Regions from separate parts of the Homo sapiens genome. Here regions 1 and 2 are each linked to region 3. Evidence: fine-mapped expression QTL. A gene starts in region 3. Each other region holds a variant in brackets. All regions are shown on one strand. Distances are from middle to middle. Region 1 holds the start of MIR7975 (microRNA 7975). Region 2 overlaps PTPRH (protein tyrosine phosphatase receptor type H). Region 3 holds the start of TNNT1 (troponin T1, slow skeletal type).

Evidence for each region. PIP is the estimated chance that this variant, and not a neighbour inherited with it, causes the effect.
Region 1: its variant is fine-mapped to the expression of TNNT1 in lung (TOPMed, PIP above 0.99).
Region 2: its variant is fine-mapped to the expression of TNNT1 in whole blood (INTERVAL, PIP above 0.99).

Annotation. Positions count from the first base shown.
Region 1 is chr19:55,122,537-55,130,711 of GRCh38, forward strand. MIR7975 (microRNA 7975) reads right to left here and starts at 756; the gene lies at 689-756. The variant C/G (reference allele first, on the strand shown) is at 4,180.
Region 2 is chr19:55,200,830-55,209,004 of GRCh38, forward strand. PTPRH (protein tyrosine phosphatase receptor type H) reads right to left here. Exons shown (of 20, transcript NM_002842.5): 2 at 6,337-6,370; 3 at 5,860-6,126; 4 at 4,497-4,763; 5 at 2,953-3,219; 6 at 1,227-1,493. Among named protein-coding and RNA genes, the nearest start is that of PTPRH, 4.6 kb to the right of the region's middle. The variant C/T (reference allele first, on the strand shown) is at 4,920.
Region 3 is chr19:55,144,921-55,153,091 of GRCh38, forward strand. TNNT1 (troponin T1, slow skeletal type) reads right to left here and starts at 4,286. Exons shown (of 14, transcript NM_003283.6): 1 at 4,241-4,286; 2 at 2,206-2,248; 3 at 2,088-2,101; 4 at 1,761-1,787; 5 at 1,514-1,546; 6 at 624-645. The coding sequence starts at 2,237. TNNI3 (troponin I3, cardiac type) reads right to left here. Exons shown (of 8, transcript NM_000363.5): 8 at 6,847-6,997. The coding sequence ends at 6,914.

The DNA.
Region 1 (8,175 bases), 22 kb before region 3:
CACTGCGCCCACCTGGGGTAACTTTTTATGCCACAAAAGCAAACTGATGCAAGGCATTCCAAGAGGCCTTTGAGCCTCTTGCAAGTCAAGCTGATTGCAAGACACTCTGCCTTTGATAAAATGTAGTGGACAGAGAAGCAGTGGTTTCAGTGGCAGAGATGACAAATTGTTGCCCAATATTCGTTGTCCCCTTCTTTCTCAACAAAATGGAACCTCTGATTATGCTGGGTTTAGCATAGCCATCTAGAATAATGGTTACATATCCCAGTGTCGGGCCTCCGAGCCCAAGCTAAGCCATCATATCCCCTGTGGGCCTGCACATATACATGAAGATGGCCTGAAGCAACTGAAGATCCAAAAAAGAAGCGAAAATAGTCTTACCTGATGACATTCTACCATTGTGATTTGTTCCCGCCCCACCCTAACTGATACGATATATTCTGCCTGGTCCTTAAGAAGGTACTTTGTAATATTCTCCCCCGCCTTTAAGAAGGTACTTTGTAATATTCTCCCTGCCCTTGAGAATGTACTTTGTACGCCCATCCCAAACCTATAAGAACTAATGATAATCCCACCTTTGCTGACTCTGTTTTCGGACTCAGCCCACCTGCACCCAGGTGAAATAAATAGCCTTTTTGCTCACACAAAGCCTGTTTGGTGGTCTCTTCACACGGACGTGCGTGACATTTGGTGCCGTGACTAGGATCAGGGGACCTCCCTTGGGAGATAAATCCCCTGTCCTCCTGCTCTTTGCACCGTGAGAAGGATCCACCTATGACCTCGGGTCCTCAGACCAACCAGTCCAAGGAATATTTCACCAATTTTAAATTGGGTAAGCAGTCTCTTTTTACTCTCTTCTACAACCTCTCTCACTATCCCTCAACCTCTTTCTCCTTTGAATCTTGGCGCCACCCTTCAGTCTCTCCCTTCTCTTAATTTCAGTTCCTTTCCTTTTCTGGTAGAGACAGAGGAGACGTGTTTTATACGTGAACCCAAAACCCCAGCGCTGGTCACGGACTCGGGAAGACAGTCTTCCCTTGGTGTTTAATCACTGCGGGGACGCCTGCTTGATTATTCACCCACGTTTCAGAGGTGTCTGATCACCACGGGGACGCTTGCCTTGATCCTTCACCCTTAGTGGCAAGCACCACTTTCCTGGGGGGCAAGCACCCCCCACCCCTTCTCTCCATGTCTCTACTCTCTCTTTTCTCTGGGCTTGCCTCCTTCACTATAGGCAACCTTCCACCGTCCGACCCTCCTTCTCCCTTAGCCTGTGTTCTCAAGAACTTAAAACCTCTTCAACTCACACCTGACCTAAAACCTAAACACCTTATTTTCTTCTGCAATGCTGCTTAACCCCAATACAAACTCGACAATGGTTCTAAATAGCCAGAAAACGGCAATTTTGATTTTTCCATCCTACAAGATCTAGATAATTCTTGTCGTAAAATGGGCCAAAGGTCTGAGGTACCTGATATCCAGGCATTCTTTTACACATTGGTCCCTCCCTAGTCTCTGTTCCTAATGCGACTTGTCCCAAATCCTCCTTCTTTCCCTCCTGCCTGTCCCCTCAGTCTCAACCCCAAGCGTCACTGAGTCTTTTCAATCTTCCTTTTCTACCGACCCATCTGACCTCTCCCCTCTTCCCCAGGCTGCTCCTCCTCAGGTCGCTCCCCACCAGGCTGAATCAGGCTCCAATTCTTCCTCAGCCTCCTCTCCCCCGCCCTATAATCCTTCCATCACCTCCTCTCCCCACACCCGATCCAGCTTACAGTTTTCTTCTGCAGCTAGCCCTCCCCCACCTGCCCAGCAATTTCCTCTGAAAGAGGTGGCTGGAGCCAAAGGCATAGTCAAGGTTAATGCTCCTTTTCCTTTATCCGACCTCTCCCAGATCAGTTAGTGTTTAGGCTCTTTTTCATCAAATATAAAAACCCCGCCCAGTTCATGGCTCGTTTGGCAGCACCCCTGAGGCCCTTTACAGCCCTAGACCCTGAAGGGTCAGAAGGCCTCTTATTCTCAATATGCATTTTATTACCCAATCTGCTCCTGACATTAAATAAAGCTCCAAAACCCCCACAACAGGACTTAATTAACCTCGCCTTCAAGGTGTACATTAATAGAGTAGAGGCAGCTGCATAGCAACATATTTCTGAGTTGCAATTCCTTGCCTCCATTGTGAGAGAAACCCCAGCCACATCTCCAGCACACAAGAACTTCAAAATGCCTACGCCGCAGTGGTCTAGCATTCCTACAGGACCTCCTCCATCAGGATCTTGCTTCAAGTGCCAGAAATCTGGCCACTGGGCCAAGGAATGCCTGCAGCCCGGGATTCCTCCTAAGCTGTGTCCCATCTGTGCAGGACCCCACTGGAAATTGGACTGTCCAACTTGTCCGGCAGCCACTCCCAAAGCCCCTGGAACTCCGGCCCAAGGCCCTCTGACTGACTCCTTCCCAGATCTTCTTGGCTTAGCGGCTGAAGACTGACACTGCCCCATCACCTCGGAAGCCTCCTGGACCATCACAGATGCTCTGGGCAACTCTTACAGTGGAGGGCAAGTCTGTCCCCTTCTTAATCAATACGGAGGCTACCCACTCCACATTACCTTCTTTTCAAGGGCCTGTTTCCCTTGCCTCCATAACTGTTGTGGGTATTGACGGCCAGGCTTCTAAACCTCTTAAAACCCCCCAACTCTGGTGCCAACTTGGACAACACTCTTTTATGCACTTCTTTTTAGTTATCCCCACCTGCCCAGTTCCCTTATTAGGTCAAGACATTATAACCAAATTATCTGCTTCCCTGATCATTCCTGGGCTACAGCCACACCTCATTGCCACCCTTTTCCCCAGTTCAAAGCCTCCTTCACATCCTCCCCTTGTATCTCCCCACCTTAATCCGCAAGTATGGGATACCTCTACTCCCTCCTTGGTGACCGATCATGCACCCCTTACCATCCCATTAAAACCTAATCACCCTTACCCCACTCAACACCAATATCCCATCCCACAGCACGCTTTAAAAAGGTTAGGCCGGGCGAGGTGGCTCACGCCTGTAATCCCAGCACTTTGGGAGGCCGAGGCGGGCAGATCACGAGGTCAGGAGATCGAGACCATCCTGGCTAACATGGTGAAACCCCGTCTCTACTGAAAATACAAAAAATCAACCGGGTTTGGTGGCGGGCGCCTGTAGCCCCAGCTACTCGGGAGGCTGAGGCAGGAGAATGGCGTGAACCTGGGAGGCAGAGCTTGCAGTGAGCCAAGATCGTGCCACTGCACTCCAGCCTGGGCGACAGAGCAAGACTCCATCTCAAAAAAAAAAAAAAAAAAAAAAGGTTAAAGCCTGTTATCACCCACCTGTTACAACATGGTCTCTTGAAGCCTACAAATTCTCCTTACAACTCCCCTATCCTACCCATCCAAAACCAGACAAGTCTTACAGGTTAGTTCAGGATCTGTGCCTTATCAACCACATTGTCTTGCCTATCCACCCCATGGTGCCAAACCCGTATACTCTCCTATCCTCAATACCTCCCTCCACAACCCATTATTCTGTTCTAGATAAACCTAGCTGACCCCATAAATCCTAAATCCTTTCCCCACTCCCCTTTCCATTCCTTAAAAAACAGCCCTGGCCGGGCACAGTGGTTCACACCTGTAATCCCAGCACTTTGGGAGGCCGAGGCAGGTGGATCACAAGGTCAGGAGATCGAGACCATCCTGGCTAACATGGTGAAACCCCATCTCTACTAAAAATACAAAAAATTAGCCGGGGGTGGTGGCGGGTGCCTGTAGTCCCAGCTACTCAGGAGGCTAAGGCAGGAGAATGACATGAACCTGGGAAGCGGAGCTTGCAGTGAGCCGAGATCGCGCCACTGCACTCCAGCCTGGGCAACAGAGTGAGAGACTCTGTCTCAAAAAAAAACAAAACGAAACAAAAAAACAAAAAAAAACAGCCCTAAAAGCTGCTCCCACACTAGCTGTCCCTAACTCATCCCAACCCTTTTCATCACACGCAGCTGAAGTACAGGGCTGTGCTCTCAGAATTCTTACACAAGAGCCAGGACCGCGCCCTATAGCCTTTCTGTCCAAACAACTTGACCTTACTGTTTTAGCCTAGCCCTCATGCCTGTGTGTGGTGGCTGCCGCTGCTTTAATACTTTTAGAGGCCCTCAAAATCACAAA[C/G]TATGCTCAACTCACTCTCTACAGTTCTCATAACTTTCAAAATCTATTTTCTTCCTCATACCTGATGCATATACTTTCTGCTCCCCGGCTCCTTCAGCTGTACTCACTCTTTGTTGAGTCTCCCACAATCACCATTGTTCCTGGCCCGGACTTCAATCCGGCCTCCCACATTATTCTGGATACCACACCTGACCCTCATGACTATCTCTCTGATCCACCTGACATTCACCCCATTTCCCCATATTTCCTTCTTTCCTGTTCCTCAGCCTGATCACACTTGGTTTATTGATGGCAGTTCCACCAGGCCTAATCGCCACACACCAGCAAAGGCAGGCTATGCTATAGTATCTTCCACATCTATCATTGAGGATACTGCTTTGCCTCCCTCCACTACCTCTCAGCAAGCTGAACTCATTGCCTTAACTCAGGCCCTCACTCTTGCAAAAGGACTACGCGTCAATATTTATACTGACTCTAAATATGCCTTTCATATTCTGCCCCACCATGCAGTTATATAGGCTGAAGGAGGTTTCCTCACTACGCAGGTGTCCTCCATCTTTAATGCCTCCTTAATAAAAACTCTTCTCAAGGCCACTTCTCTTCCAAAGGAAGCTGGAGTCATTCACTGCAAGGGCCATCAAAAGGCATCAGATCCCATTGCTCAGGACAACGCTTATGCTGATAAGGTAGCTAAAGAAGCAGCTAGCTTTCCAACTTCTGCCCCTCACGGCCAGTTTTTCTCCTTCACATCGGTCACTCCCACCTACTCCCCCACTGAAACTGCCACCTATCAATCTCTTCCCACACAAGGCAAATAGTTTTTAGACCAAGGAAAATATCTCCTTCCAGCCTCACAGGCCCATTCTATTCTGTCGTCACTTCATAGCCTCTTCCATGTAGGTTACAAGCCGCTAGCCCATCTCTTAGAACCTCTCATTTCCTTTCCTTCGTGGACATCTATCCTCAAGGAAACCACTTCTCAGTGTTCCATCTGCTATTCTACTACCCCTCAGGGATTGCTCAGGTCCCCTCCCTTCCCTACACATCAGGCTCGGGGATTTGCCCCCGCCCAGGACTGGCAAATTGACTTCACTCACATGCCCTGAGTCAGGAAACTAAAATACCTCTTGGTCTGGGTAGACACTTTCACTGGATGGGTAGAGGCCTTTCCCACAGGGTCTGAGAAGGTCACCACAGTCATTTCTTCCCTTCTGTCAGACATAATTCCACGGTTTGGCCTTCCCACCTCTATACAGTCTGATAACGGACCAGCCTTTATTAGTCAAATCACCCAAGCAGTCTCTCAGGCTCTCGGTATTTAGTGGCTCCTGGTTTTACCTCAAATCGCCTTAAGTCTCTCTTGAAGTGGATAGATCTTCAGTGGCAAGGTACCCTCCAATACTTTCACCCTGATGAAGTCCTATTCTTTACTTCTATGCTCACTGTTATTCTGGTTCCCATTCTTTTTTTTTTTTTGAGACAGAGTCTTGCTCTGTTGCCCAGGCTGGAGTGCAGTGGCGCGATCTCGGCTCACTGCAAGCTCCGACTCCTGGGTTCACACCATTCTCCTGCCTCAGCCTCCGGAGCAGCTGGGACCACAGGCGCCCGCCACCACACCCAGCTAATTTTTTGTATTTTTAGTAGAGATGGGGTTTCACTGTGTTAGCCAGGATGGTCTCAATCTCCTGACCTCGTGATCCGCCCGCCTCAGCCTCCCAAAGTGCTGGGATTACAGGGGTGAGCCACCACGCCCGGCCTTGGTTCCCATTCTTATGCCATCCTCTACCTCTCCCCAGCTATCTCCACCACACTATCAATCTCACTCTCTCCCAGCCATTTCTAATCCTCCTTTAACAAACAATTACTGGCTTTGCATTTCTCTTTCCTCCAAAATTGCCAAGGCCTCGACTTACTCACTGCTAAAAAAAAAAAGGACTCTGTATATTTTTAAATGAAGAGTGTTGTTTTTACCTAAATCAATCTGGCCTGGTATATGACAACACAAAAAAACTCAAAGATAGAGCCCCAAAACTCACCAGCCAAGCAAGTAATTATGCTGAACCCCCTTGGACACTCTCTAATTGGATGTCCTGGGTCCTCCGAATTCTTAGTCCTTTAATACCTGCTTTTCTCCTTCTCTTATTTGGACCTTGTGTCTTCTGTTTAGTTTCTCAATTTATACAAAACCGCATCCAGGCCATCACCAGTAATTCTAGAAGGACAAATGCTCCTTCTAACAACCCCCAGTATCACCCCTTACCCCAAAATCTTTCTTCAGTTTAATCTCTCCCACTCTAGGTTCCCACGCTGCCCCAATCCCACTCGAAGCAGCCCTGAGAAACATCGTCCGTTATCTCTCCATACCACCCCCAAAAATTTTCACCGCCCGAACACTTCACCACTATTTTGTTTTGTTTTTCTTATTAATATAAGACAGGAATATCAGGCCTCTGAGCCTAAGCTAAGCCATCATATCCCCTGTGACCTGCACGTACACATCCAGATGGCCTGAAGCAACCGAAGATCCACAAAAGAAGTGAAAATAGCCTTAACTGATGACATTCCACCACTGTGATTTGTTCCTGCCCCACTAACTGATACCATATATTCTGCCCCACCCTTAAGAAGGTACTTTGTAATATTCTCCCCGCCCTTGAATGTACTTTGTACGCCCATCTCAAACCTGTAAGAACTAATGATAATCCCACCATCCTTTGCTGACTCCCTTTTCAGACTCAGCCCACCTGCACCCAGGTGAAATAAACAGCCTTGTTGCTCACACAAAGCCTGTTTGGTGGTCTCTTCCCACAGACGCACGGGACACCAGCATCCCTACCAACTGGGTATGATAATGTAATTAACTTCTGTCAATGAGACTGAGTAGGAGTAAACATGTCTCCTTCCATTTTACCCCAGTCTGCGGTCTGAAACAGAGTGGGAACTATCTTACCCTATGGGCAAAGGCAACCCCCTGGGGAAAGGAGCTACACAGTAGGATGAGCTTGGACCCAGGCAATGTTACAAAACAGAGCCATCATCCCAACTCAGACTTTTACATGTGAAAGAAATCAACTATTGTCAGCCAGGCAAAGTGGCTCACACCTGCAATCCCAGCATTTTGAAAGGCTGAAGCGGGAAGACTGCTTGAGCCCAGGAGGTTGAGGCCGCAGTGAGCTGTGATTGCACCACTGCACTCTAGCCTGGGTGACAGAGGGAGACCCTGTCTCAAAAAAAGAAGAAGGCCGGGCACGGTGGCTCACGCCTGTAATCCCAGCACTTTGGGAGGATGAGGTGGGAGGATCACGATATCAGGAGATCAAGACCATCCTGGCCAACATGGTGAAACCCCGTCTCTACTAAAAATACAAAAAAAAAAAAAAATTAGCTGGGTGTGTTGGCACGGGCCTGTAATCCCAGGTACTTGGGAGGCTGAGGCAGGAGAATCGCTTGAACCAGGGAGTGGGAGCTTGCAGTGAGCTGAGATTGCGCCACTGCACTCCAACCTGGTGACAGAGCGAGACTCCATCTCAAAAAAAAAAAAAAAGAAAAAGAAAAAGAAATTAAAACAAAAAAAGAAAGAAAGAAAAAGAAAATCAACTGTTGTGTTGGTCCATTTGGGCTGCTGTAACAGAACACCGTAGACCTGGTCATTTACAAACAATACAAATGTATTGCTCACAGGTCTGTAGGCTGGAAAGACCAGGATCAGGGCGCCAGAAGACTCAGTGTGGAGGGAGGGCCTGCTCTCTGCTTCACAGATGGTGCCTTCTTGCTGTGTCCTCACACAGCCAAAGGGGCAAGGGGCTCTCCCTCAAGCCTCTTTTATAAGGACATTAACCCCATTTGTGAGGGCTCTGCCTTCATGACCTAGTCACCTCCTAAAGTCCCGTGGAATACTATTGCATTCATGATCAGGTTTCAACATGTAAATTTTGAGGGGATACATACATTCAAAGCATAGCAACTGTCTGGTTATTTGGGATTTAGGGCCCAGTG
Region 2 (8,175 bases), 56 kb after region 3:
CTACTCGGGAGGCTGAGGCAGGAGAATGGCGTGAACCCGGGAGGCGGAGCTTGCAGTGAGCCGAGATCGCGCCACTGCACTCCAGCCTGGGCGACACAGCGAGACTCCGTCTCAAAACAAACAAAAAAAACAAACAAAAAAAACAAAATAAAAATCTCCAATGGAATAGCATTAAGAGGTAGGGCCCTTGCAAGATTAGGTCATAAAGGTGAAGCCTTTATGCCTGGGGTTACTGCCTAAGAGAGGCCCAATGGCCCAGCACAGTTTCACATTTCATGTGAGATTACATGCCTGTAATCTCAGCAATTTGTGGGGCTGAGGTAGGGAGATTGCTTGAGGCCAGGAGTTAGAGACCAGCCTGGACCACACAGCAAGACCTCATCTCTAAAAAAAATAAATTAGTCAGGCATGGTGGCCCACGCCTGTAGTCCCTGCTACTTGGGAGGCTGAGGTCGGCGGATTGCTTCAGCCCAGGAATTTGAGGCTGCAGCGAGCTACGATCCTGCCACTGCACTCCAGCCTGGATGACAAAGCGAGACTCCAGCTCTAAAAAAAAGAAAAAAATAAGAGAGACTCAAGGGAGCTTTGTGTGGTGATGAAGACAGTCTCTCACTTTCCAATATGGTAGGCATTAGCACCGTGGAGGATGAAGGGGGGACTGGGAGCCCCTCAACAGGCCTTTTGAGCACATGAAATGTGAAACTGAATTTGCAGTTTCATGCAACTTTAATGAGTTTAAATTTAATAGCCACGTGTGGCTAGTGGCTACCATATTGGACAATGGAGGTGTAGACACAGGGAGCTGTCCACATCAGGGTCATGGAGCTGATGATCTGAGTTTCCATCCTCAATATGTGACACAGTTGGGAACTAGAAGAAGAGTCAGAGGGTCAGAGTGTCCCCACTCACAGTATCTAATTCCTTGAAAGCTCAGGTAACATGCCTTGGCCCCTACACATTCCTCTTGGTGCAGGAAGGTGCCCCTTGGCATTATGGTCCACATTCTAGAGAGTCCTAGACACAGACTGGCCCCAACTTAGCAGCTGGAGGTACCATGGACATTCATTCCTTCTTCATCTCCTGAGCTGAGACTGCCCCAGGATGTGGACATGAGTACCTGGCTCAATATGGCCCAGAGGGACTATGGAATAGACAATCGTCTACATTCTACTGCTTACTGTCCCTTAAACAAATAAGAGATCAAACAAATGGCGACTGCCTCTCACCTGTGGTGGCATTTCGAGTCTCCCGGGAGCTGTTGATTCCATTCTTCCCCACCCACACGGAAAACACATACAAACACCCGGGTTCAAGTCTATCCACGGTGATGTTGGTGTGTGCTGTGCTTCGAGTCCCTGCTCTGCCACCATCTCCAGTGTACTCAACCCCGTAGGTGGAGTTCTGTGGGTCTGGGCCATCGGGGACCTCCCAGGTCAGGGCGATGGAGCTGTTGGTCTGAGCCTCCACTGTCAGGTTTCTCACTGGGTTGGGAGCTGAAAACCAGCACAGGAGGGAAAATCAGTTGTAGTTTCTGGCCCTCAAACTTTCCAGCCCTTCCTTAACCATTGCATCCAGCAGGTGGAGGCAGGGAGGCCCAGTTCTGCACTGTCCAGTGTGGCAGCCACGAGTTCCACGTGAGTGTTGAGCACCGTGAGGTGGCTTTTGTGAAATGAGATGAGCCGTTAGTGTAAGATCCACACCGGCTTTCGAAGAGTTCGTATGAAATTAAGAATTAAGAATGTCAACTATCTGATTGATCCTATACACACACACACACACACATATATATACACATACACATATATATACACACACATATATATACATACACATATATATATATATTTTGTGGGTATATACTCAGTGTGTATATTTAATGATCCTTTCCTTATATTGATTACATGTCAAAATGATAATATTTTGTATCTGCCAGGCGCAGTGGCTCACACCTGTAATCCCAGCACTTTGGGAGGCTGAGGTAGGCGGATCACCTGAGGTCAGGAGCTCAAGACCAGCCTGGCCAACATGGCGAAACCCCGTCTCTACTAAAAATACAAAAGTTAGCCAGGTATGGTGGCATATGCCTGTAGTCCCAGCTACTCAGGAGGCTGAGGCAGGAGAATACTTGAACCCAGGAGGTGGAGGTTGCAGTGAGTCAAGATCATGCCACTACATTTCAGCCTGGGAGACAGAGACTCTGTCCCAAAAAAAAAAAAGGGCTGGGCACGGTGGCTCACGCCTGTAATCCCAGCACTTTGGGAGGCCAAGGCGGGTGGATCACAAGGTCAGGAGATCGAGACCATCCTGGCTAACACGGTGAAACCCGTCTCTACTAAAAATACAAAAAATTAGCCAGGTGTGGCGGTGTGCGCCTGTAGTCCCAGCTACTCGGGAGGCTGAGGCAGGAGGATGGCCTGAACCCGGGAGGCAGAGCTTGCAGTGAGCCAAGATTGCGCCACTGCACTCCAGCCTGGGCGACAGAGGGAGACTCTGTCTCAAAAAAAAAAAAAAAAAAATTGTATCTGATGGGCTACATAAAATATCTCATAGTAATTTAGTTTCTTTCTTTCCTTCCTTCCTTCCTTCCTTCCTTCTTTCTTTTTTGAGACAGGGTTTCTCTCTGTTGCCCAGGCTGGAGTGCAGCAGTCCAATCAGAGCTCACTGCAACCTCTGCCTCCCGGGCTCAAGCGATCCTCTCACCTCAGCCTCCCGAGTAGGTGGGACCACGGGAACACGCCACCACAGCTACTTTTTTATTTTTTTTGTAGAGACAGGCTGACCAGTTTCTTTGTACTTATTTTTATGTGGCTGATAGAAAATTGAAATTCTCACCTGTGGCTTCCACTGTGTTTCTATTGGACTAAAGAACCTGTCACATTTTGTCAGCTCCCAACCACCCCCTACCACTGTCCTTATAAAAGAAATAAAAATAAAACAGCGGCTGCCTCTTACCTGTGGCACTAGTGACAATCTCCACAGAGCTATTTACTCCGTCTTTCTCCACCCACACAGAACACGTATACAATGACCCGGGTCCAAGGCCATCCACGGTGACTCTGGTGTCTGTTGTGTTTCGAGTCTCTGTTCTGCCACCATCTCCAGTGCACTGAACGCAGTAGGTCGAGTTCTGTGGGTCTGTGCCATCGGGGACCTCCCAGCTCAGGGAGATGGAGCTGGTGGTCTGAGCCTCCACTCTCAGGTTCCTCACTGGGTTGTGAGCTGAGAAATTAGGAAGAAAGATCTAATATGAGCAGGACTACAGAACATAACGGGGGCAGCCAGTGAGCTTTTTGTTTGTTTGTTTTTTCGAGACAGAGTCTCTGTCTGTCATCCAGGCTGGAGTGCAGTGGCACGATCTCGGCTCACCACAGCCTCCGCCGTCCGGGTTCAAGCGATTCTCCTGCCTCAGCCTCCCGAGTAGGTGGGACTACAGGTCTGCACCACCACACCCGGCTTATTTTTATATTTTTTCACCATGCTGGCCAGGCTGGTCTCGAACTCCTGACCTCAGGTGATCCTCCCACCTCGGCCTCCCAAAGTGCTGGGACTACAGGCGTGAGGCAACATGCCTGGCCAAGTGGGCATTTTTGATCATCAGAGTTCCTAGTTGTCCCTCAACAGCTGGTGCCAGTAGATGCAGAGTTTATGGTCTAGACCAGGGCTTCTCATTCTTTGCTGTGTGCACATCTCACAGGGGACCTTGTGAAATGCAGGTTCTCACTCAGCAGGGCTAGGATGGAGCTGAGAGACTGCACTCCCCCCCACCCTTTTTCTCCCCCACCAGTGTCACTTGCCAATGTATTTCCATCAGCTCTCAGAGACCCGGATGCTGCCCACACATGGACCACACTTTGAGTAACAAAGACCTGAGCCAGCGCTTTCCAACTGAGCTTCTGCAACGATGGAAATGCTCTCCCACCTTCCAGTATGGTAGGAGAACAGAGAAGGAAATGGAAGCCCTTCAACAGGGCTTTCAAACATATGAAATGTGAAACTGAATTTGCAGTTTCATGCAACTTTAACGAGCTTAAATTTAATAGCCATGTGTGGCTGGTGGCTACCATATCGGACAATGGAGATCTAGCCAGAGGGAGCTCTCCACATCAGGATCATGGAGCTGATGATCTGAGTTTCCATCCTCAATATGTGACGCAGCTGGGGACTAGAAGAAGAGTCAGAGGGTCAGAGTGTCCCCACTCACAGTATCTAATTCCTTGAAAGCTCAGGTAACATGCCTTGGCCCCTACACATTCCTCTTGGTGCAGGAAGGTACATTCTAGAGAGTCCTAGACACAGACCGGCCCCAGCTTAGCAGCTGGAGGTACCATGGACATTCATTCCTTCTTCATCTCCTGAGCTGAGACTGCCCCAGGATGTGGACATGAGTACCTGGCTCAATGTGGCCCAGAGGGACTATGGAATAGAAATCCGCTACGTTCTCCTGCCTACTGCCCCTTAAACAAGTAAGAGCAAAACAAATGGCGACTGCCTCTCACCTGTGGTGGCATTTCGAGTCTCCCGGGAGCTGTTGATTCCATTCTTTCCCACCCACATGGAAAACGCATACAAACACCCGGGTTCAAGTCCATCCACGGTGATGTTAGTGTGTGCTGTGCTTCGAGTCCCTGCTCTGCCACCATCTCCAGTGTACTCAACCCCGTAGGTGGAGTTCTGTGGGTCTGGGCCGTCGGGGACCTCCCAGGTCAGGGCGATGGAGCTGTTGGTCTGAGCCTCCACTCTCAGGTTCCTCACTGGGTTGGGAGCTGAAAACCAGCACAGGAGGGAAAATCAGTTGTAGTTTCTGGCCCTCAAACTTTCCAGCCCTTCCTTAACCGTTGCATCCAGCAGGTAGAGGCAGGGAGGCCCAGCTCTGCACTGTCCAGTGTGGCAGCCACGAGTTCCACGTGAGTGTTGAGCAC[C/T]GTGAGGTGGCTTTTGTGAAATGAGATGAGCCGTTAGTGGAAGATCCACACCGGCTTTCGAAGAGTTCGTATGAAATTAAGAATGTCAACTGTCTCATTGATCCTTTATATATATTTGTGTGTGTGTGAGTATATACTTGGTGTATATATTGAATGATCGTTTTTATATTGATTACAAGTCAAAATGAAAATACCTTGTATCTGCCAGGTGCAGTGGCTCACACCTGTAATCCCCGCACTTTGGGAGGCCGAGGCAGGCGGATCACCTGAGGTCAGGAGTTCGAGACCAGCCTGGCCAACATGGCGAAACCCAGTCTCTACTAAAAATACAAAAGTTAGTTGGGCATGGTGGCACATGCCTGTAGTCTCTGCTACTCGGGAGGCTGAGGCAGGAGAATCACTTGAACCCAGGAGGCAAAGGTTGCAGTGAACCAAGATCATGCCACTGCACTCCAACCTGGGCGACAGAGCAAGACTCTGCCTCAAAAAAAAAAAAAATTGTATCTGATGGACTACATAAAATCTCTCATAGTAATTTAGTTTGTTTTTCTTTTCTTTTGTTTTCTTTTGTTTTCTTTTCTTTTTTTTTTTTTGAGACAGGGTTTCTCTCTGTTGCCCAGGCTGGAGTGCAGCGGTCCAATCAGAGCTCACTGCAACCTCTGCCTCCCGGGCTCAAGCGATCCTCTCACCTCAGCCTCCCGAGTAGATGGGACCACGGGAACACGCCACCACAGCTACTTTTTAATTTTTTTGTAGAGACAGGCTGACCAGTTTCTTTTTACTTATTTTTATGTGGCTGATAGAAAATTGAAATTCTCACGTGTGGCTTCCACTGTGTTTCTATCCAACTAAAGAACCTGTCGCATTTTGTCAGCTCTCAACCACCCCCTACCACTGTCCTTATAAAAGAAATAAAAATAAAGCAGTGGCTGCCTCTTACCTGTGGCAGTAGTGACAGTCCCCACAGAGCTATTTACTCCGTCTTTCTCCACCCACACAGAACACGTATACAATGACCCGGGTCCAAGGCCATCCACGGTGACGTTGGTGGCTGTTGTGTTTCGAGTCTCTGTTGTGCCGCCGTCTCCAGTACACTGAACCCAGTAGTTGGAGTTCTGTGAGTCTAGGCCATCGGGGACCTCCCAGCTCAGGGAGATGGAGCTGGTGGTCTGAGTCTCCACTGTCAGGTTCCTCCCTGGGTTGGGGGCTGAGAATTGGGAAGGAAGGTCTGACAAAAAGGGAACCAGGTCAGTACAATCCCTCCCAACCCCTGAGCTCACGCCCCAAGTCCAGAAACAACGGCGCTCATAAACCCCTACCATGGACCACTGGACCCCACGGGGACCCCCCAGAGGCTCACGGCAGTTGCGGTCCCACCTCTTCGAGTGGGCAGTGAGTTCAGGCAGGGGTCACTCACCAGGCGCCCTGGCCCCTGTCCAGCTGCACAGGCCCTGGAGGGAACCCAGAGAAAACGGAGTCAGCCTCTCAACCACTCCTCCGCCCAGTGAGGCCGAGGGGCTGGGAGGAGCGGCTGGTCCCCGCCCCATGAGTCACCCTTGCATGGGAAGGAGGGGCCGGTGTTAGGCTGGGCTGTCACGACCTCGACCGTCTTTCCTGGGTCGAGGAGAGAAGGGGGAGCATGGCAGGAGCAGAGCTTAGGGAGCTGGGGTTGGCTCCACCCGATAAGGCTGAGAGATAAAATTAATGATTTCATTTCCTGAAATATATGTCCTTGGAAAACCGAGGGCAGAGAGCAATGAACAGACTGGGAAGGGAGAAAAAAACCAAGGTTGGGGATCAGGAACCTTGGCCTGAGGGTGGAGGGCCTGGGGGCCTGGGGGCCTGGGTCTGAGGGAGGAGGGGCTGGGGGTCTCGACCTCTGGTTTGAGGGAGGAGAGGTTGGGGGCCTGGACTCCTGAGTCTGAGGGAGGAGGGGCTGGGGTCTGGACTCCTGGGTCTGAGGGAGGAGGGGCTGGGGGTCTCGACCTCTGGTTTGAGGGAGGAGAGGTTGGGGGCCTGGACTCCTGAGTCTGAGGGAGGAGGGGCTGGGGGTCTGGATTCCTGGGTCTGAGGGAGGAGGGGCTGGGGGTCTCGACCTCTGGTTTGAGGGAGGAGAGGTTGGGGGCCTGGACTCCTGAGTCTGAGGGAGGAGGGGCTGGGGTCTGGACTCCTGGGTCTGAGGGAGTAGGGGCTGGGGGTCTGGATTCCTGGGTCTGAGGGAGGAGGGGCTGGGGGTCTGGACTCCTGGGTCTGAGGGAGGAGGGGCTGGGGGTCTCGACCTCTGGTTTGAGGGAGGAGAGGTTGGGGGCCTGGACTCCTGAGTCTGAGGGAGGAGGGGCTGGGGTCTGGACTCCTGGGTCTGAGGGAGGAGGGCCTGGGGGCCTGGGGGCCTGGGTCTGAGGGAGGAGGGGCTGGGGGTCTCGACCTCTGGTTTGAGGGAGGAGAGGTTGGGGGCCTGGACTCCTGAGTCTGAGGGAGGAGGGGCTGGGGTCTGGACTCCTGGGTCTGAGGGAGGAGGGGCTGGGGGTCTGGATTCCTGGGTCTGAGGGAGGAGGGGCTGGGGGTCTGGACTCCTGGGTCTGAGGGAGGAGGGGCTGGGGGTCTCGACCTCTGGTTTGAGGGAGGAGAGGTTGGGGGCCTGGACTCCTGAGTCTGAGGGAGGAGGGGCTGGGGTCTGGACTCCTGGGTCTGAGGGAGGAGGGGCTGGGGGTCTGGACTCCTGGGCCTGAAGGAGGAGGGACTGGGGGTCTGGACCCCTGAGTCTGAGGGAAGAGGGGCTGGGGGTCTGGACTCCTGAGTCTGAGGGAGGAGGGGTTGGGGGCCTGGACTCTTGGTTTGAGGGAGGAAGGGCTGGGGGCCTGGACTCCCGGGTCTGAGGGAGGAGGGGCTGGGGTCTGGACTCCTGGGTCTGAGGGAGGAGGGGCTGGGGGCCTGGACTCCTGAGTCTGAGGGAGGAGGGGCTGGGGTCTGGACTCCTGGGTCTGAGGGAGGAGGGGCTGGGGGTCTGGACTCCTGGGCCTGAAGGAGGAGGGACTGGGGGTCTGGACCCCTGAGTCTGAGGGAAGAGGGGCTGGGGGTCTGGACTCCTGAGTCTGAGGGAGGAGGGGTTGGGGGCCTGGACTCTTGGTTTGAGGGAGGAAGGGCTGGGGGCCTGGACTCCCGGGTCTGAGGGAGGAGGGGCTGGGGTCTGGACTCCTGGGTCTGAGGGAGGAGGGGCTGGGGGCCTGGACTCCTGGGTCTGAGGGAGGAGGGGCTG
Region 3 (8,171 bases):
GTTGTAGGCAGGGAGGCCAGAGAGGAGGCTGGGGTGATGGTAAAGGCGCGAGGGGAAGAGGGACCACTGGGTGGAAAGAAGGAAACAGACTGGCTGGGCATGGTGGCTTGCGCCTGTAATCCCAGCACTTTGGGAGGCCAAGGTGGGAGAACTGCTTGAGGATAGGAGTTCAAGACCAGCCTAAGCAACATAGCAAGACCTCATCTCTACAAAAAGAAAAAAAAAAAAAAAAACCAGGTGTGGTGGCACATGCCTGTGGTCCCAGCTACTCAGGAGGCTGAGATGGGAGGATTGCTTGAGCCCAAGATGTTGAGGCAGTGGGCCAGGATTGGGTCACTGCACTCTAGCCTGGGTAACAGGGTGGAGACTATGACCACGATGAAGAAGAAGGGGAAGGAGAAGGAGAAGGGGAAGGGGAAGAAGAGGAAGTGGAGGAGGAGGAGGGAGGAGGAGGGAGAGGAGGGAGGAGGGAAAGGGGGAGGGAGGAGGAGGAGGAGGAGAAATGTCGACTGCTGTTTCAATTTCCTCCCTCCATCTCTGCCTTTCTCACACCTTGTCTCTGGGGGTAGAGGGAATATTTAGGAAGATGTATGACTGGGGCCCCCCACCCTGTAGGATCTCACCTTGGTTTGGGGCGTTCCTCTTCTGTTGGTGGTGGGGGATAAAAAGAGATAATTAGCAAGAGTTTAGAGGAGAGGGGCTAGGCCTGACACACCCTGGGGAGGGACCCCCCAAGCCTCGGCCCCCAGGACCCCAGGGAAGGACTCTGGAGTCCAGTTCTGGAGGAGGGGGGATGGGGAGAAGAAAAGAGGGAAGGAAAGTCAGGGTGGCTGTAAAGGAGGAAGAGGGTCACACGCATCAGATATACATTCAGAACTGGTGTGGGGACCCCCCACCCCCACTGTCTGCACACCCAGGAGTGCAAACCCCCAGACCTTTCTCTATTTATATGCCCAGAGCTCCTGCTCTCCTCCATTAGGACCCAGCAGTGCAGGGGGTCCCAACCTCTGTCTTCATTCAGTGACCCCAGCGCTCTCTCCCCAGCTCGCCCCCTGCCCACCGCCCCACCGCCCCCCCGCCCCCGGCCCGACCTTGGAGACCCTGACTCCCAGCGCTCGCCTCCTCTGCAATCCTAAATTCCAAGCCCCAACCTTTGAATGTATATGGGGGAGAAAATAACAGACAAGGTTGGAGGCGAAGATAAGGGGGGATGGGGTGGTGCTTCTCCGCAAACATCCAACCCTTCTGTAAAGATTCCTCCAGACTGGGGAAGAAGGCTTGGGTGTCGGTCCCTTTAAGAAGGAAGGGAAAGGGTTAAAGCCACTGCGGGGCCATTTCCCTTCCCGGCCCCGAGAGGGCGCAGGAGCTCTCAGGGGCTTAAAGGACCGGGCCTGGGGGCGGGTTATGGGGGCGGAGGGAGGGAAGGGTGGTCTTGGAGGTTGGGGCCCGAGGATATCGGGGGTCCCCCCGGGCCCCCGACATCGGTCTCGGGAAGCGAAGCAGCCGCGGTTACCTGGCTCTGCCACCGGCTCCGGCTCTTCGGGGGCTGGGGAGGGGAGGGAGGAGCAGCGAGGGTTTGGGGAGCGAGGGGGGAGCGGCCACGCCCGGGCGCGGGAGGGGAGAGAGGGAAGAGACGTGAGAGGCTGTTAGAGGACCGGGAGCCGAGGCCGTCGGGAGCCCCATCCCGCCCCCTCCTCCCGGGCCCAGCGTCCCCGCCCCCCCACCCCCCAGCTCCAGACCTGCGGAGTCCGGGACCTCACCTTCCTCCTCCTCCTCCGCAGCCTCCTCTGGAGATGGGGGCACAGAAGAGAAGGCGTTAGGAGCTGGGGGAGGGATGGGGGCGGTGGCCAGAGACCAGGGTTCCAGTCTCTGCTGGACGGGGGTCCCTCTGGCCTCGGCTGCGATGGGCACGTTCCCCCTGGCGGTGCAGGGATGGCGCGAGGAGACGCTCCAGACCCGGAGAGGGCGGGCGAGGGCCCGAGGGCTGAGCCGCCCCTTCCCCGCCAAAGTGCCACACTCCTCGCCTCCCCTCCCAAGAGCTCCTGGGCGTGTCCCCATCCCATAGGGCCGGCCCACTCCCTACTCACCTTCCGGCTGCTCCCTGCGGACGGGTGTGGGGAGAGAGGAGGGAGGGGAGAGTTAGACCTGGGGTGGGAGAGCCTCTCCACCACTGCACGCCCCAACCCCTCCCAGTGCAGCACTCACTCCTCATATTCCTGCTCCTCGGTGTCCGACATCCTGGTGCGGCCTAAGGACCAGAGAGAAGAGGCCCAGTGGGGTGGGGCCCCAAGGAGGGGGCGACCTAGACTCCTGGGTGTGAGGGAGGAGGGGCTGGGGGCCTGGACTCCTGGGTCTGGACTCCTGGGTGTGAGAGAGGAGGAGCTGGGGTCTGGACTCCTGGGTGTGAGAGAGGAGGAGCTGGGGCCTGGACTCCTGGGTCTGAGGAAGGAGGGGCTGGGGGCCTGGACTCCTGGGTCTGAGGGAGGAGGGGCTGGGGTCTGGACTCCTGGGTCTGAGGGAGGAGGAGCTGGGGCCTGGACTCCTGGGTCTGAGGAAGGAGGGGCTGGGGCCTGGACTTCTGGGTCTGAGGGAGGAGGGACTGGGGTCCTGAACTCCTGGATCTGAGGGAGGAGGGGCTGGGGGCCGGATTCCTGGGTCTGAGGGAGGAGGGGCTGGGGGGTGTGTGGGAGGGTGGGTGTGGACTCCTGAGACTGAGATGGGTTGTCCTGGACACCTGGGTCTGAGGGAGGAGGGGCTGGGGTCTGGACTCCTGGATCTGAGGGAGGAGGGGCCAGGGGCCTGGACGCCTGGGTCTGAGGGAGGAGGGGCCGCGGGCCTGGACGCCTGGGTCTGAGGGAGGAGGGTCTGGGGGCCTGGCCTCCTGGGTCTGAGGGAGGAGGAGCTGGGGCCTGGACTCCTGGATCTAAGGGAGGAGAGGCTGGGAGTCTAGACTCCTGAGTCTGAGGGAGGAGCGGGCTGGGGGCCTGTACTCCTGCGTCTGAGGGAGGAGGGCTCAGGTCTGGACTCTTGGGTCTGAGGGAGGGGGCCGGCTGTCCTAAAGCATGCATGAGGACAGACCTTGGTAGGTGTGGTCCTGGCACAGCCAGGAGGCTGCAGACCCTGCCCCCTCAGCACAGCTGTCCTCTTTTGTCTTATGACAAGTCCATGGGAACCTGATCCAGTTGGGATTAGGAAGAGGCATTTGAGAAGGGACAGTGGCCTGAAGACAATAGCTGCCCCACCCCCAGGAGCTATTTTGGGGGGATGTCATAGATGGTGAAACCGAGGACATTTCCTAAGAAGGGATTTGAGGAAGGGGGGCTTCTGGGAGAATTAGTCACCCGCATCCCCTCTCCCACTCGCCCCACCCCACTGGCTGGTTTCCTCCCCACCTGTCTCCCCTTTCACCTTCCCATACATCACGTAGGGGGCAGGGGCATAAAGGGCACCTTCTGTCCGTAGACCTCACCCTGACCCCTACATTCTTAGACCTCAAAGTCTTTGAGACACCCTAGGCCACAGGGTGCCTAGCCCCAAATCCCAATACCCACAGATTCTGAGACCCCGATTTATGATGCCCGTGTTTCTGAGGCCAGCAAGTCCTCACAGCTCTGGATTCTGAAATCCCAGTTCTTGATAGTCCAGATATGGGCCGGGACATCCTAAGACCACCCCCAGGTCTTGAGACCTCCTAAAATCTGAAACCTCAAGAATATGAGACCCCCAAAATCTTGATACCCAAACTCGGAGGCCCAGTTCATGATACCCCAGATAATGGCACTCTAAGTTTTCATGCTTTCTATCATAATGTCTCAGATTCCGAGCCCTCCACTACCAAAACCCCAATTTCTTCTGAGACCCCCCCAATTCCTGATACCCTCAGAGTCTGAGGCCCCAAATCCTGACACCCAGATTGTTTGACCTCCAAGTCCAGATATCCCTGACTGCTGAGATTTCCCCCAGATTCCCAGAACCCCAAGATCCTAGGAGGTTTTATTCTGGGACATCCAAGTCCTGGCAGCCCCGGGTTAGGATTTGTGTAACCCACAAATCCTAGTATTTTCCCCTCTATCCTGAGTCCCCCTAAAGTCTGAGCCTCTCAAGTTCCCAGACCTCCAGTTGTATGCCCCACCTACCTCTGCACCATTTCTCCACACCCGACATCTTCCCCACCTGCCTCCTGCCCCCTCCCCCAAGGACATGGTTTTTGAAGACCACAGGGCTCCGCAGAGCCCCTTACCTAGGCTGTGTCTGAGATGCTGTGAATCTTGAGGCTGAGCCTTGCTGAGGGCACTGAAGCTCCGGGGAGTTTATAGCTGGAGGCTCGGGCCCGCCCCGAGGGGAGAGGGAGGGGGAGAGAATTCCTTTGCTCAAACACAAGCCTGGGAGTTCAGAGACAGCCCTGCTGCCCCTGGCTCCACACTCAGAGTCCAGAAGCCTCCGTGGGCCCCTCCCCAACCCCATGCCAACCCCATCTGCATGGCCCAGGAGCCCCGCCCCTGCTCCCACCCCACACCCCAGGCTCCCGTGGTGCTCCAACTACCTCCCTTATAGCTCCCTGTGCTTTGACGTCCCCATGCCCGGCACACAGTAGGTCCTTGGAGGACCTACTAATGACACATGGGCTATAAGGAATGTTTCCTGTTTTCTTCTCTCTGTTCCCTCTTTCTATCTAGGTCTCTTTCTGGACCCCCATTTCTGTTGTCTCTGTGGCTCTCCATCTGTGTGTCTCTGTGTGTCTGTCTCTACTTCTTAGTCTCCTCCTCTGTCTCTGTCCATCTTTTTGTCTCCTCCTCCCACCCCCACCCCTTTGTCTGCCGCCAGGATTCCATCCTGGTGACAACAGGCACTAAAGCCGGGAAGCAGGTGTGGGGAGGGGGAGGGGGAGGGTGGGGTGTCAATTAGGGTGAAACCTACCCTCCCTCCCCACCTCCATCTAACGCTGATCTTTTTTGGTATCCCCCTCCCGCTTCCCAGCCAAGCCATGACCTTGAGTTCTAGGTTCAAGCCAGCCCTGGAGAGCAGGCTTCCTCACCCTCCCCGCCTCTCCGTACCTCTGTCTCTGGTGGTCTCGGTCTTTGTGTTTCTGTGCATTTCTCGGGGCCCCTTGCTGGGTCTGTCTTGGGCTCTCTCTGCATCTGTCGCTTTCTGAGCCCCTCAGTGTGTTTCTCGGCATGTGTCTCCGGGTGGTTTTGTCTCTGCATTTCTGTGGGTGTCTCTGCATGTCTGCCCCTCTCAGCGTTTGTGTCTGTGGGGGCTCACAGTCTCTCTGTGCATTTCTGTCCACCTATGACCCCATTTCTGTCTCTTTTTGGCTCTGGGTCTCTGTGTCTGTGTTCACGTCTCTATCTTTCTAGTTCTCTCCATGTCTCTCTTAGTGCCCGCAGTTCCCCCTCTGTGGCTCTCCATTTCCATCTCTTATAGGGTCTCCATGTCTCTGCACCTTGCTGTGAGTATATCTCTGTCTCTCTTTTCTCCTTTCTTTGCACTTCCTTCTATGCATCTTGTGGTATTTTCTCCCTCTCTCTTTGGGTCTTTGCCTGGCTCCTACTCTCTCTACTCCCAACTCAGTCTCTCTGTTGTCGGTCATGTCTCTCTGCCTGTCTGTTTCTCTGTGTCTCTCTCTCTTTGACCTTTAGTCTTGGCATCTCTGTGCACTCCACATGGGCCAGAGGAGCTGTGACAATAGAGATCAGAAGACTGATGGAATGAACTGTTTGTGGCAATAAGATACCAAATTATAAACAAGACCTAAGGCCATGCCAGGCAAGGGTTAAGCCACGCATCCCTACACTTATATAATCGACTATGTTCCAACTGCCACAAGGCTTTTCCTTTTTCTAGCAGCTAAACAAGCACCGGCCTCAAGATAAGCAATATTACAACCATTGCAGCCATCCATTGCCAGATGCTGACTAGCTGAACCCCCTGTTCCACAAGGCATAACTACAGCATTAGTTGAACAAGAGACTGATTTCAGTAACTTTCTCCTGATAAGATGCCGCAGACCACGGACTGGTTCTGGCTGTTGACAGAGGCTGTGCACTGAGTGTCTTCATATCCCTGCTTCGTGTTTCGATACGAATGCATTCAATGGAATGCACTTAAATGTTAAGCCTCCACCACCAAGTGAAGGTGGGATGCATGTAAAATGTGTTTGCGGCCAGTCGCGGTGGCTCACGCCTGTAATCCCAGCACTTTGGGAGGCCAAGGAGGGCGGATCACGAGGTCAGGAAATCGAGACCAGCCTGGCCAACATGGTGAAACCCCGTCTCTACGAAAAACACAAAAATTAGCTGGGCGTGGTGGTGCATGCCTGTAATCCCAGCTACTGGAGAGGCTGAGGCAGGAGAATGGCTTGAACCCAGGACGCAGAGGTTGCAGTGAGCTGAGATCGTGCCACTGCACTCCAGCCTGGGTGACAGAGCAAGACTCCGTCTCAAAAAAAAAAAAAAATGAGTGTTTGCTTGTCACACATGCGTGTGTCCATGTGTCCACCTGTCCATGAATATTCATAGCTCCTTCTATAACCAGTTGAATACGTGCACTTAGCTAACCCACTCAGCATAAATTCCTGCCTTGCCCTTCCCTCCCTTAAAGTGCCTGCTTTTGTTTTTTGGCAAGAAGCCATGCTTCTGGTCTTCAGGTTGTGATCCGCTTCTTAAGAAACAAAGCTCCGCTCTCCAAATTCATGAACCCCGGGATTCTTTTCAATAACACAGCCAAGAGTGCTTCACATGGGAGACCCATCTGGTCCCCAACCTGCTGTGTGGCTTTGGGGGAGCCCCACCTGCAGTCTTCCCATCTGTCTCCTGCCTAAGCCCTGGGTAATAGACATGGAGTCACTTTCAGCTCAGAGAGAAGCTTTATTCCTCAGGGCCCTCCTCAGGGCAGGGGCAGTAGGCAGGAAGGCTCAGCTCTCAAACTTTTTCTTGCGGCCCTCCATTCCACTCAGTGCATCGATGTTCTTGCGCCAGTCTCCCACCTCCCGGTTTTCCTGGAGGATGGCGATGAGTCAGAGGTTAGGGTCTCTTCTTGGTCTCCAGTCTCTCAAGAATCCCTGTCTTCCCTCCAGCCTGTGGGGCCACTCTACCCTGGATGCCTAAGTATCTAGTTCTGGAGCACTTCCTGTCTTTTCAAGATAATCCCTGCCAATTTTCCCCATGCACTTCCTGTCTCCCTCATGCACTTCCTGTCCCCCTCATGCACTTCCTGTCTTTCCCCAGCACTTCCTGTCTCCCTCATGTACTTTCTGTCTTTCCCCATCCACTTCCTGTCTCCCTCATGCACTTCCTGTCTTTCCCCTCCACTTCCTGTCTCCTTCCTGCACTTCCTATCTTTCCCCTCCACTTCCTGTCTGCCTTATGCCCTTCCTGTCTCCTTCCTTCTCTTCTTATTATAGTAGTCCCTCCTTTTCTGCAATTTTACTTTGTGTGGTTTCAGTTACCTGAGGTAAACCATGGCCCAAAAATATTAAATGGAAAATTCCAGAAATAAACAATTCATAAGTTTGATGGATTCTCAGGTCAATAGTAGCCTAACGCCAGGTCATAATGCCTATGTCATCCACCTCACCTCATCTCAGCACATAGGCACTGTCATTTTACATCACAAGGAAAAGAAGGGTGATTACAGTGCTATAAGATATTTTGAGAAAGAGACCACATTCATGAGTTTTATTACAATCTGTTATAATTGTTCTATTTTATTATTATTATTATTTGAGACAGGGTCTGGCTGCCTCATCCAAGCTGGAGTGCAGTCGTGCAATCTCGGCTCACTGCAGCCTCAACTTCCTGGGCTCAAGCCATCCTCTCACCTCAGACTCCTGAGGAGCTGGGACCACAGGTGTGTGCCACCATGCCCAGCTAACTTTTGTTCTGTTTTGTTTTGTTTTGAGATGGAGTCTCCCAGTGTTGCCTGGGCTGGAGTGCAGTGGTGAGATCTCGGCTCACTGCAACCTCTGCCTCCCGGGTTCAAGCAATTCTCCTGCCTCAGCTTCACAAGTAGCTGGGATTACAGGCACCCACGACCACGCCCAGCAAATGTTTGTATTTTTACTACAGGTGGGGTTTCACTGTGTTGGCCAGGCTGGTCTCAAACTCCTGACCTCATGATCCGCCCGCCTTGGCCTCCCAAAGCGCTGGGATTACAGGCACGAGCCACCACAC